Homo sapiens: one gene and its partner. The protein of the gene in region 1 interacts with the protein of each later gene in a pairwise test. Each region holds a gene or a part of one and is shown in the gene's direction. Other genes may lie near its edges.

Evidence for each region. Proteins that work in one complex are often made in the same cells at the same time.
Region 2: the proteins of FMNL2 (region 1) and PKNOX1 interact in a two-hybrid assay, tested with the Homo sapiens proteins (one large-scale study listed by BioGRID and IntAct).

The regions. Positions count from the first base shown.
Region 1 is NC_000002.12:152,341,674-152,345,173, forward strand, and holds part of FMNL2 (formin-like protein 2), read left to right. Parts: intron 1-3,500. UniProt on the Homo sapiens protein: Plays a role in the regulation of cell morphology and cytoskeletal organization. Required in the cortical actin filament dynamics.
Region 2 is NC_000021.9:43,005,562-43,009,061, forward strand, and holds part of PKNOX1 (homeobox protein PKNOX1), read left to right. Parts: intron 1-1,929; coding exon 1,930-2,057; intron 2,058-3,500. UniProt on the Homo sapiens protein: Activates transcription in the presence of PBX1A and HOXA1.

The DNA.
Region 1 (3,500 bases):
GAAAACAAAATTTCCAGAACATAATACATTGTGATTCATTAGTTGACATTGGCTTTTGAAGAGCTTTCAGGTGGAAATGTGTGTAGGGGTGTTCTGTGTGGTCTAAAGAGTAGAATTCCCCAGGGTCAGTGACTGAAAGTCATATGAGCATAGGGAAAAATATTCTAACATGTAGAGTTGTTGAAAATGGATGGTGAGTTCTCCGTTAAAGTTATTCAGATAATCTGTGTGACAAACACTGGTGATTGGAAGGCCCTTTGCAGCCCAAGAAGATAGGAAGTACATTATTGGCTCGAAAGTTGCCCTCTTTGAGGTGAGTCTGCAACTTGCAGGTTCTAGACATAGAATTATAACACCTGAGAGTGGGGAAAGATCTCCTGGTAGGTGCTTCCTGGGCTTAAAGAAGAAAAAGATACGTATGGGCTGATGTTTGTTCTGGAAATTCATTTGACTTTATAAGAACTGTTGCTTAAAGGGTTTGGTCTTAATGAACAGTGCTCTTCTTTTTCATATTTAGAGCTTGGGGAATAGGGACAAGGTAAAGTGGGCTCTCCAGCCCTCAGGTTTAAGCAAGTAATAGATGTCAAAAAAGTAGCTAATACAAGAAGCACTGATTATAGATGATTGCCCCTCCTTTGCAAGAGGACGCTGTAACTGGAGTACTTTTAGGAACAAAGCATTGAATCCTTATAAAAGAAGGAACAGCCTAGAGGAACTTAGGAGGGAAGGTGAGTTACAAGCTATACAGTTGCTTGGCAGATCTCATCTTGTAGAGCGGCTCTTTATGGAGTGCCACTGCCATCCCTGCAAATAAGAAGTGTGTCCCTAGGCTTTGGAGTCATGGTTCCTTAGAGAGCCTTCATGTACCTTCTTAGTTCTCACCTACTTGAACACTGGGGACAGAGATAGCTCATTGCTTGTCTTCCCTTTAGAATTCCATCTGTTCATACTGCAGGGTGATCTTCCTCCCTCCTCCCCAGTGACCCCTTCCTCCTTTCCAGAAACCTGTCTTTCAACATAAATGCCAAGGACTATGCAGTTTCCAACTGATAGCATATAATTTGGAAGCAATGTCTAAGGGAAGAGCTGTTAGGTTGGAGAGCTGCCTCTTGAACTGTGATCTCAACCAAGGCCCGGAGATGTGGACCAGACGGGCTTGGAATTCTGAAATTGGGCAACATTCAGCCCTATTTACCAGGTATGATGGTATTTGATGTTGACAGATAAAAATGTACATTCTTTTCACTCTCTGAAAAAACAAACAGAAAAACATGACCATCAGTGTTCACTGGTAGGCAATTATCACAAACTCTCTATGATTTCTAGTCTTGTATAGTTTCTAGGACAAACTTCATATAGTTTCTGTGATTCCATGATCTTCAGTGTTCTTGTTTAGCCTGTAATTGACTTTGGTGACTCTCATTTCACATGTAACCTTAGTCTCCTTTTTTCTTTGCAGAAGTTCTGATGCATTTGTAAGCCCCTGTAACCATTGCCACAGAAGCTGAAAGCCTTGAGGTGTTTAGACCCTGCTATCCCCAGAAGTAATCTCACTTGACTGACTTCTGTGCATAGAAGATGCCCATGGCTTGGTTTTGGGAATGATGTCAAATATCAAATAGTTCATATTTTTTTGTTTTGAGATGGATTCTCCTTCTGTCATCTGGGCTGGCGTACAGTGGCGTGATCTCAGCTCACTGCAACCTCTGCCTCCTGGGTTCAAGCGATCCTCCTGCCTCAGCCTCCTGAGTAGCTGGGATTACAGGCACGCACCACCACACCCAGCTAGTTTTTGTACTTTTAGTAGAGACAAGGTTTCACCACATTGGCCAGGCTGGTCTTGAACTCCTGACCTCAAGTGATCCACCAGTCTTGACATCTCAAAGTGCTGGGATTACAGGCATAAGCCACCACACCCGGCTTAAATAGTTCACATTTTTGACCATGTGCCTGGTGCTGGGACACTAACGTGTGACTGATGGTGCTTTTAAATAACACATCTCACTAGTCTCAAGACCTGTCTTGGTTGAGGGTTTGCTCAGGAACCTGACTTCCCTTCCTTGTTTTTTTTCTCTCCGTGGAAGTTTGGCAGAACACCTTATTTAAGCTAGAATAAGGGTATTGGTAAGTTAAAGTAGTGGTTCTCAAACTTGGTTGTGCATTGACATCACTTGGCGATCCTCAGAAAGTACAAGTGGGCCAGGTACAGTGGCTCACGCCTGTAATCCCAGCACTTTGGGAGGCCAAGACAGGAGGATCACTTGAGGCCAGGAGTCCTAGACCAGTGTGGAGCAACATAGGGAGACCTCATTTCTACTACTAATGAAAATTAGCAGATGTGGTGGTGCATGCCTGTAGTCACAGCTTACCTGGGAGGCTGAGGCAGGAGGATTGCTTGAGCCCAGAAGTTTGAGGTTGCAGTGAGCTATGATCATGCCACTGCACTCTAGTCTGGGCAACAGAGCAAGACTATCTCTAAAACAAAAACAAAAACAAAAACAGAAACCCACAAATGCCTGGGTTCCACTCCCAGAAATTCTGATAAATTTGTCTGGAATGTGACCTGGGCATCAGGATTTTTAAAAGCTCCCTAGAAGGTTTGAATGTGCAGCCAAGGTTGACAGCCACTGTGCTAGATGTTTTCCCCCTTTTTCTTCCTACCCCAAAGACCAAGCCAATTTGCCTATGAGTTAAAACCAGCAGAAAACAAGATAATGAGTGTAATAGAAAAGGGATTGTTTAAGAAGTTAAACAAAATTTTGGATAGATTAGGCAAAATTGAGAAGGTTGAGAAGAGTTAAAAAAATGAAAGATATTTGATTCAACTAAAAGCAACAAGATGAAAAAATACAGAAGAAAAGGATAAATCCTGTTGAATGGTAGAGAGACTTTATTTAACTATTTAAGAAATGACCACCAAATTATCATAATGAAAATTTGTGAGAAAATTCTATACATATGGTGTAAGATTAAGCAATGACCCAGAAGTATACTTCTGGAGTAGAACAATCAATAAATCAATTGCATTTTTGCTTAGGCCTCCATTCTGTAGCCTAATTGTTTGTTGGTTCAATGCAGCCCTTTTGCTTTGATCTCTGGTTTTACCATTTACAAAGACTTGATGAGCTTGGCTTCCTGTAGTGAAATTCAAATATACTTGTGAAATGTAAACAACATTCATTTATTAAGAATCCTATAATCAAGGCAAATTGGCATGCTTATATAAGCAATTAGCCTTGAGAATAGAAAGATAAATAGGATGCTAGGTCAAGAATGAGCTGATTGTTCTCAATGCAAGACTCTAGTTATTTCTTTATTCATTATAATGTAAGCAAATAGACATTCCTCTTATTCATAATTTTTAGCATTTGTGGTTTGGGGTTTGAGGACAGCATATGTGGTTTTCTGGAACTGAGAGGATAGTAGCAATTATTGTTTCATTTTGATTTAGAAATATAAATCAATCTTATAAGGAACTGTAGGTAGTTGATTTATGACTA
Region 2 (3,500 bases), on another chromosome or scaffold:
CTAATAATGTCCCGCCTGAGCTCTCCAGTGGCTCCCTGTGGATTCCTGTGGGTTTCATGCAAAGACTGAGCTGCTCTGTGGCCCGAATCGTCTGGCCCCTCTGGACCCCAGGACGCCCCCAACATCTCTGCCTGGCATATCTTGGGCACCTCTCTGCCTGCCCTGGAGCACCGGTCCTCACTGTTCCCATCACTCTTCTCCCTCCTGCCTGCCAGGTCTTTGCTCCGACCCCACTGCTGCCTCCTGTGCACCAAGGCACGGTGACCACCTCCAACACAGCCTGGTTGCTACCAGCCACCTCCTCCCAGGCAGCTGTGCCAGGTGCAGATGACACCTGGAGCACTGCCCTTTTCATACCCGAGTGTTTCCAAGGGCCTCGGAAGTGTTTAATCAGCATTATTTTAAATAAACATTGAAATATATCTACAGCGTAGACCTATCATAATTATTTTGCCATTTTTCCAAGGTTGAACATTTAGGTTTCTCTCTTTTCACAATCATTTTTTTTTCAAATACTGAAATGAATCTTTTAAGGCTTCTTATTTTTTATTATTTATTTATTTACTTATTTATTTATTTTGAGACAGAGTCTTGCTCTGTTGCCCCGGCTGGAGTGCAGTGGTGTGATCTCAGCTCACTGCAACCTCCGTCTCCCAGGTTCAAGCAATTCTCCTGTCTCAGCCTCCTGAGTACCTGGGATTACAGGTGTGTGCCACCACGCCCAGCTAATTTTTTTGTATTTTTAGTAGAGACAGGGTTTCACCATGTTGGCCAGGCTGATCTTGAACCCCTGACCTCAGGTGATCCGCCCACCTTGGCCTCCCAAAGTGCTGGGATCACAGGCATAAGCCACTGTGCCTGGCCTTTTTAAGGCTTTTTATACATGCTGGCAGATTGCCTTACACAAATACTGTGTCCACTTAGGCTTTATTGCTTTTATTTTTTTTTTTTAAGAGAAACATAAACAGTTTTCCTAATATGTTGTACCATTTAAAGGCAGCAGAATAGAAGTCATCTTATTGCAAAAACAAGACATTGGAGGGAAGAGAGCACAGGGCTGGAGGATGTGAGAGGCGTCCTGTGCGGGTGGGCGTTCATGGCTGGCCCCCAGTCTGTCTGGACAGTGGGGATGGCCCCGCTCCCATGAGGTCTCCCCGCCCCCGCTGCCCCAAGCTGCTTCCTCAAGGGGCAGAAGCATGGCCAAATCCACCGCGGGAGAAATGGCCCGTCCTGGTCCTGAGGAAGCTGAGGTCAGGACAGTCTAATCTGCTGCTCATGGATAACTAGAAGTTTACTTTCACGAAATTTTGTTTTTGTAAACTGATTTTTTTTAACGATTTAAATGTTTTTTACCTAAATGACAAAGGCATTGCTTGTTTAAAGCAGTTTAAATGATAGTATCTTTTAAGGCTTTAAGTAAACACAGCTGGCCTTTTCCTTTCTGAATGCAGTGACATTTTTATGGCTATGTATTGCTGAGGTTTGAGGGTAGATATGGGAGAAGTTCAACCTTGTCCCAAATATGTAGCGTATGGGTTAGGTTGTGTCTGTGACATGGTAAGAAGACCTTGGACTATTTGTCTATGCTTCTCTGACTGTAGTATTGCTACACGTGAGGAGATATAGCAATAGACGGAGGAGTAGATTGCACGTGTGCCGTTCTCTTCATTAGGCCATCGCCAGTGTTATTTTAAAATCATGAGCATTTCACAGACATTGGTTATCTCAGTTCTTAAGCAGTTTGGAAATTTTACCTTTATTTTAAAGCACATTAAATTCAAAGCTGTTTTGTTGGTAGCATTCTTTACATATGATTGCAGTCATACTGCTGTCTGGCAATTCCCCACTCCAACTGCATTCCTGTTGGAGCATGGAATACCTCGTAGTAGTTTGTGTTTGCTAATAAGAATTATCTTCCTCCTTTTACAGATGCAAGTAGTAACAGAGTTAAAGACAGAACAAGATCCAAACTGCTCTGAACCCGATGCAGAAGGAGTGAGCCCTCCCCCTGTGGAGTCTCAGACCCCGATGGATGTGGACAAGCAGGCCATTTATAGGTAGTGCCCGGGGTGCCGGCTGTGGGGGCCTCAGAGGAGTGAGGAGTGTCCACAAGTTTGTTAAAAGGAACACCAGAACTAGTAGCGAGGCAGAGTTGTGAGGTGCCATTATGATGTGATAACTGCTCGGCTGAAAATTTTCTCAGATTAAGATGTTATTTCTGGCCAGGTGTGGTGGCTCATGCCTGTAATCCTAGCACTTTGGGAGGCTGAGGCGGGCGGATCACTTGAGGTTAAGAGTTTGAGACCAGCCTGGCCAACATGGTGAAACTCCATCTCTACTAAAAATACAAAAATTAGCCAGACATGGTGGCACATGTCTGTAATCCCAGCTACTTGGGAGGCTGAGGCAGGAGAATCACTTGAACCGGGGAGGCGGAGGTTGCATTGAGCTGATATCGCACCACTGCACTCCAGCCTGGGCAACGAGAGCAAAACTCTGTCACACACACACACACACACACACACACACACACACAAAGATGTTATTTCTAATACCTATAAAAGTTTTAGAATATCAATCTATAAATTTTGTGTAACCTTGCAAAAAGAAATATTCAGGCACAGATGATTTTACTGAGAATTCTACCCAACATATAAAGAAGAAGAGAGCAGCAAGTCTGCATAGTCTCTTTCAGGAAGTAGAGGAGGAGTGAATGCTTCCCAACTCACTTTATAATTGACATCACTCTGACACTAAGACCAAAGACAATACCAAATAAGGAAAATACAGGCCAATATCCTTCATGAACTTAGATGTAAAAATCATCAATAAAATATTAACAAATCAATTCTAGCAATATGTAAAAAGAATAATACGTAGCGACCAAGTCAAGTTTTTCCTGGGAATGTCAGACTTGTTTAGTATTTAAAAGTCTGCCAGGCGCAGTGGCTCACACCTGTAATCCCAGAACTTTGGAAGGCCGAGGCAGGTGGATTACCTGAGGTCAGGAGTTCAAGACCAGACTGGCCAACATGGCGAAACCCTGTCTCTACCAAAAAATACAAATATTAGCCGGGTGTGGTGGTGCATGCCTGTAGTCCCAGCTACTCTGGAGGCTGAGGTGGGAGAATCACTTGAACCCGGTAGGCGGAGGTTGCAGTGAGCTGAGATCATGCCACTGTACTCCAGTCTGAGTGACAGAGAGTGAGGCCCTATCTCAAAAAAAAAAAATTTTTTTTTAAGTTCAGCATAGAATTATATATAACTCAGCAATTCTACTCCTATGCATATGTATACCTAACACAAATGAAAAAAGTCCACACAAAAACGTGTACATGAATTTTCATAGCAGCACAGCCTATCATGGCCAAAAGCTGGAAACAGTGCCCATGCCCATCAACTGATGAATGAACAGACACATTATGGCATCTCCATGCAATGCAAGAATATTTAGCAGTAAAAGGAATGAAGTGGCGGGCGCGGTGGCTCATGCCTGTAAT